2 separate regions of the Homo sapiens genome follow, and region 2 is linked to region 1. The links come from fine-mapping of genetic effects on gene expression. Tissue or cell type: whole blood. Region 1 holds a variant in brackets; the other region holds the start of a gene. All regions are shown on one strand. Distances are from middle to middle.

Region 1 (2,762 bases):
TTGAGACCAGCCTGGGCAATAAAGCAAGATCTCATCTCTAAAAGAGAAAAAAAAAAATTAGCAGGGTATGGTAGGGTATGCTTGTGGTCTCAGCTATTTAGGAGGCTGAGGTGGGAGGATTGCTTGAATTCAGGCAGTTGAGGCTGCAGTGAGCTGTGACTGAGCCGTTGCACTCCAGCCTGGGCAACAGAGCAAGTCCCTGTCTCAAAAAAAAGAAAAGAAAAAGAGAGAGAGTTTGAAGTAGAACTTGCTGTGAGGTTTCTTGTGCACAGGTGTTTTTGAGGGAGAAGATCAGGACAGAGCAAGGGAATGAGCTAAGCAAGGAAGTGGTCTTAGCTGGAGTCCAGCCTTAGCCGGATCCCATGGGGAGCCCTGGAGTGTGACTGGTGCCACCAGGTTGGTCTCACCCTGGGGGCATGGGGCTGGCCTTCTGCACCTCTGTGACCATCCGTTATGGCTGTGGGCTGGGTCTGAGGGTTTGCACAGTTGCTCAGCTGAGGAGAAGGGGGAAGCTGTGAGCTATGAGCTATTGTAGGCAGCACTCACTCACAGCAGCCCCAGGATGGGTGCACCAGCCTGGGAAAGGTCAGTGAGCAGAGCGTTGACTGCACCCACAACAGGGACTTCAAGTATTTTATAATCACTGGGGGGCTTTTTGTTGTTGTTTTTTTGAGACAGGGTCTCACTCTGTTGCCCAGGCTGGAGTGTACTGGTGCCATCACGGCTCACTGTGACCTTGACCTCCTGGGCTCAAGCAATCCTCCCGAGTAGCTGGGACTACAGGCATACACCACTAGGCCTGGCTTATTAAAAATTTTCTTTTATAGAGATGGGGTTTCTCCATGTTGCTCAAGCTGGCCTTGAACTCCTGGGCTCAAACAGTCCTCCCACCTTGGCCTCCTGAGTAGCTGGGACCACAGGTGTGCACCAGCCACTATGCCCAACTAATTAAAAAAAAATTTTTTTCTGTAGATTCAGGATCTCAGTATGTTGCCTTGAACTCCTGGGCTCAAGCGATCCTCCTGCCTTGATTTCCCAAAGTGGTGGGATTACAGGCATGAGCCACTGTGTCTAGCTGATCACTAGGGCTTTAGGGGGAGTGGAGATCAATAAAACAAGATGGGGAGACCAGAGTCAGACTACGTAGAGCCTTGAGTGCCATATTAATAAGCCTGAACTTCATCCTGAGGGCAATAGGGAGCCATGGAAGGGTTTAGAGTCTAAGCAGGGCGTGGACAGGTTAGGCAGGGATTCCCCAACTTCCCTGCCCCTTCCCGGCACTCTGTGTGACGGTAAGTGATGTTCCTGCAGCTCCCCAGGCTGATTTCTTCAATCTTGAGAGTCCCTTGTATTCCCCTTTGCTAGGGAAGTCATTAGGGGTTAGATTTTGTAAGCTTCTTGGCCAGAATTGTTGATTTCCTCTTCCACATCTTTCCCCTTCCTGTTCTTACACCCCCACCCGCAACTCTGCAGGGCCGCTGCAGGACAGTCTTTATATAGCTTCGGTCACCTCTGTGGGTTTGAAGGGTGTCTGGAGTCTTGGGT[T/C]TTCAGTGTCTCACTAGGACCCGATACCCTGCCTGTGGTAGGTGGGATAAAGGGCCTCCTCTCCCTCCACGAGGCACCTACAGCCTAATCCCTAAAGCCCAAGGATGTGTTCCCTTCTATGACAAAAGGGACTTTTGCAGATGGGATTCAGTTAAGGGCTATTTTTTTGGGGGGGAGGTGGGGGGAGTGGGGACAGAGTCTTACTCTGCTGCCCAGGCTGGAGTGCAATGGCACGATCTCAGCTCACTGCAACCTCTGCCTAATGTCATTACAAGAATTCTTACGAGAAGGAGACAGGAGGATCAGGGAGAGAGAGAGAGATGGAGAGATAGAGATACACAGAGAGTGAGAGAGAGAGAAAGAATGAGAGAGAACGAGAGAGAGAGAGAGAGAACAAGAGCAATAAGGAGAGTGAACAAGACAGACAGAATGGGCCAGGCGCAGTGGCTCGCGCCTGTAATTCCAGCACTTTGGGAGGCCGAGGCGGGCGGATCACTTGAGGTCAGGAGATTAAGGCCAGTCTAGTCAATATGGTGAAACCCCATCTCTACTAAAAATACAAAAGTTAGCCAGGTATGGTGGCAGATGCCTGTAATCCCAGCTACTCGGGAGGCTGAAGCAGGAGAATCGCTTGAACCCGAGAGACGGAGGTTGCAGTGAGCCGAGATCGTACCACTGCACTCCAGCCTGGGTGACAGACTGAGACTCTGTCTCAAAAAAAAAGGAGAAAAAAAAAAGAGAGAATGAAAGAGCAAGAGGGAGGGAAAAATGAGAGAATAAGCAAGAGAGAGAACTTGAGAGAGAGACAGACAGAGAAAAAGAGAGAGAATGAGAGAGCAAGAGAGAGGGAAAATGAGAGAGAGAGAGAGAGCAAGAACGAGAGATTTAGAGTACGCAAGAGACATTTGAAACTGCTAGCTGCTGGCTTTGCATAGGAAGGAAGGGACCATGAGCCAGGGCATGTGGGTTGCCTCCAGAAGCCAGAAAGGACAAGGAATGGATTCTGCCCTGGAGCCTCGGGAAGGATTGCAGCCCTGCTGGCATCTTGGTTTTAGTCCCATGAGACTCGAGAGGACTCTGACCTCTGGACCCATCATATACTAAATCTGTGTTTTCCCCAAGCTGCCAGGTCCGTGGCAAGCCTCATCCCATCCCCATCCCCAGAAGGGATCTGGGTTTGATTGCAAAACCTTCCAACTCTTTAGCCCAGCCTCCAA
Region 2 (2,762 bases), 210 kb before region 1:
GTGGGTACACGCACATACGTCCACATGGGTATATGGACACGAATGTGTGGCCACCGGATCCAGACCCAGGACACAAAAGGGGCCAAGCCCACAGGGGTATGGTGTTGGGCACACATAGACCCCCAGGTGAGGCACACAGACAGGCGGACACATCCACAGCCAGCTGGAAGCAGACCGAGAAATTTCCACAGATGGAAATGGTCAGAGAATTAATGACAATCGCAGTAACAGTAATAAGAGTACCAGAGAAGGCCAGGCGCAGTGGCTCACACCTGTAATCCCAGCACTTTGGGAGGCTGAGGCGGGTGGATCTCCTGAGGTCGGGAGTTTGAGACCAGCCTGACAAACATAGAGAAGCCCCATCTCTACTAAAAATACAAAATTGGCCAGGCGTGGTGGCGCATGCCTGTAATCCCAGCTACTCGGGAGGCTGAGGCAGGAGAATCACTTGAACCCGGGAGGCAGAGGTTGCGGTGAGCAGAGATCATGCCATTGCACTCCAGCCTGGGCAACGAGAGTGAAACTCCGTCTCAAAAATAAAAAAGTACAGAGAAAATGCATGCGTGTGTGCACAGGGGTGTGCATGGCAGTGTTGGGGTGTCAGTTCCGACGGGTGGAGCTGGCATCGTCTGGTACTACACATGCCATAGCATACTTCGTCCCCTATGAAGAGACTGCCCTTATTTTGTAGATGAAGACACTGAGGTTCAGAGAGGTGAATTCACTTGCCCAAGGCTGGGAGCAGCAACCAGTCAAGCCAGCTGCTCTCAGCCTGTGCCCTGTCCTACACACACACACACACACACACACACACACACACACAGACACACAGTGACCCACAATGACACAGGGGAGCCCCCCTCACCTCCACCTGCTCTCAGCCCCCCGGTCCCACTCACAGGCAGGCGGGTGACCATCTCTCCTAGACGCCAGTGCAGCTGCAGGAGGAACCAGCCTTGGACGGCCAGCCCGGCCCCCATCAGCAACAGCAAGAGACCCAGACCCACCCGGGCCACACTGCACGACTGTCTCCGGTGGCTTCGTCCCAGCCTCGTGAATGGGATGTCGGTCTGTCCATCCACCACAAACACTGAGGGCCGTACGACACTCTCCTCCATGCCCAAGGTGTCTGGAGCAGGGCTGACACGCCTGGGTCCTTCAACCTCAGAGGAAACCGAAATTGCTCAACACTCCTGGGCTGTGCACGCTGCGGACAGGCACCCGTGGGCCGCCTTTAGAGCTGGGGTTCAGCCCCACCCCTTCCCCCACTCACCCTCCTCTTCTTCCGGTACCCGCCGCCCCCGGTCTTGGCCCTGTCTCACTCTCACTCATACAGACTCTCACACTTTCCAGAGGCTTCTGAAAATGTGACTCAGGTGGCAAGTGCAGTGGGGAGCCCCCAGCTTTCCCTTCTTGGATGCTTCATTCGCTTGGGGCCACCAAATATCGACTGAGGACTTTCTGCCCATGCCAGGCTCTGCTCTCGGTGTGGGGGATGCAGCAATGAACAACAGCAAGAAGGGTCCCTGCTCCTCTTCTGGTGGAGCCAGAGAGACAAGAAACCTCGTAAACAAGAAAATAATACGTTGTGGGTTTTTTTGTTCGTTTATTTGTTTTGTTTTTGAGATGGAGTCTCGCTCTGTTGCCCAGGCTGGAGTGCAGTGGCGCGATCTCAGCTTACTACAACCTCCACCTCCTGGGTTCAAGCAATTCTCCTGCCTCAGCCTCCCAAGTAGCGGGGATTACAGGCGCGTGCCACCACGCCTGGCTGCTTTTTGTATTTTTAGTAGAGATGGGTTTTCACCATGTCGGTCAGGCTGGTCTCGAACTCCTGACCTCAAGCGATCCACCCACCTCAGCCTCCCAAAGTGCTGGGATTACAAACGTGAGCCGCACCATGCCCGGCCTTCTGTTGTGTTTTGATGTGACAAGTGCAGTGAAAAACACAAGAGTGGAATAAAGGAGTGGATGTGTGCTCTGTGTGTGTGCTTGTCTGCATGCATATATGTGTGCAGTGTGTGCATGTGAATGTGTGTATTCAGTTGTGTGCATGCAAGTGTGTATCATGTACACATGTGCAGGCGCATGCCTGTGTATCATACATGTGCTGGCATGTAAATGTGCGTGCATATGTGGGCAGGTGCATGCATATGTGTATGGTCATCTGTGTGCATGTGCATGTGGTCCATGTACATGCATGCATGTGCACGTGTGTGTATGTGTGAACATGCATCACATGTGCAAGTGGGTGTGCATATATGTGCTGTGTGCAGGTGTGTGCATGTGTGTGTGCCTGTGCATTGGTGCGTGTATGTGTGTGTGCGCACTTGCACGGGTGTGTTCATGTGTGTGGGGAGGTCCATGTATGAGTGTGCATGCATTCAAGCGTGGATTTTTTTTTTTTTCGAGACGGAGTCTCGCTCTGTCGCCCAGGCTGGAGTGCAGTGGTGCGATCTCGGCTCACTGCAAGCTCCGCCTCCCAGGTTCACGCCATTCTCCTGCCTCAGCCTCCTGAGTAGCTGGGACTACAGGCGCCCACCACCGCACCCAGCTAATTTTTTGTATTTTTAGTAGAGACGGGGTTTCACCGTGTTAGCCAGGATGGTCTCAATCTCCTGACCTCGTGATCCGCCTGCCTTGGCCTCCCAAAGTGCTGGGATTACAGGCATAAGCCACCGCACCCAGCCTTTTTCTTTCTTTTTTTTTTTGAGGCAGAGTCTCACTTTGTCACCCAGGCTGGAGTGCAGTGGTGCCATTTTGGC

The links. PIP is the estimated chance that this variant, and not a neighbour inherited with it, causes the effect. A credible set is the group of variants that fine-mapping cannot tell apart.
Region 2: TNFSF14 starts here. The variant in region 1 is the best candidate, but not a certain one, in a credible set for the expression of TNFSF14 in whole blood (TOPMed, PIP 0.53).

The regions. Positions count from the first base shown.
Region 1 is chr19:6,875,554-6,878,315 of GRCh38, forward strand. No RefSeq gene overlaps it. Among named protein-coding and RNA genes, the nearest start is that of ADGRE1, 11 kb to the right of the region's middle. The variant T/C (reference allele first, on the strand shown) is at 1,546.
Region 2 is chr19:6,668,952-6,671,713 of GRCh38, forward strand. It overlaps TNFSF14 (TNF superfamily member 14), which reads right to left and starts at 1,209. Exons shown (of 4, transcript NM_001376887.1): 1 at 900-1,209. The coding sequence starts at 1,118. RefSeq lists enhancers at 1-68, 969-1,058, 1,439-1,668 and a silencer at 2,239-2,338.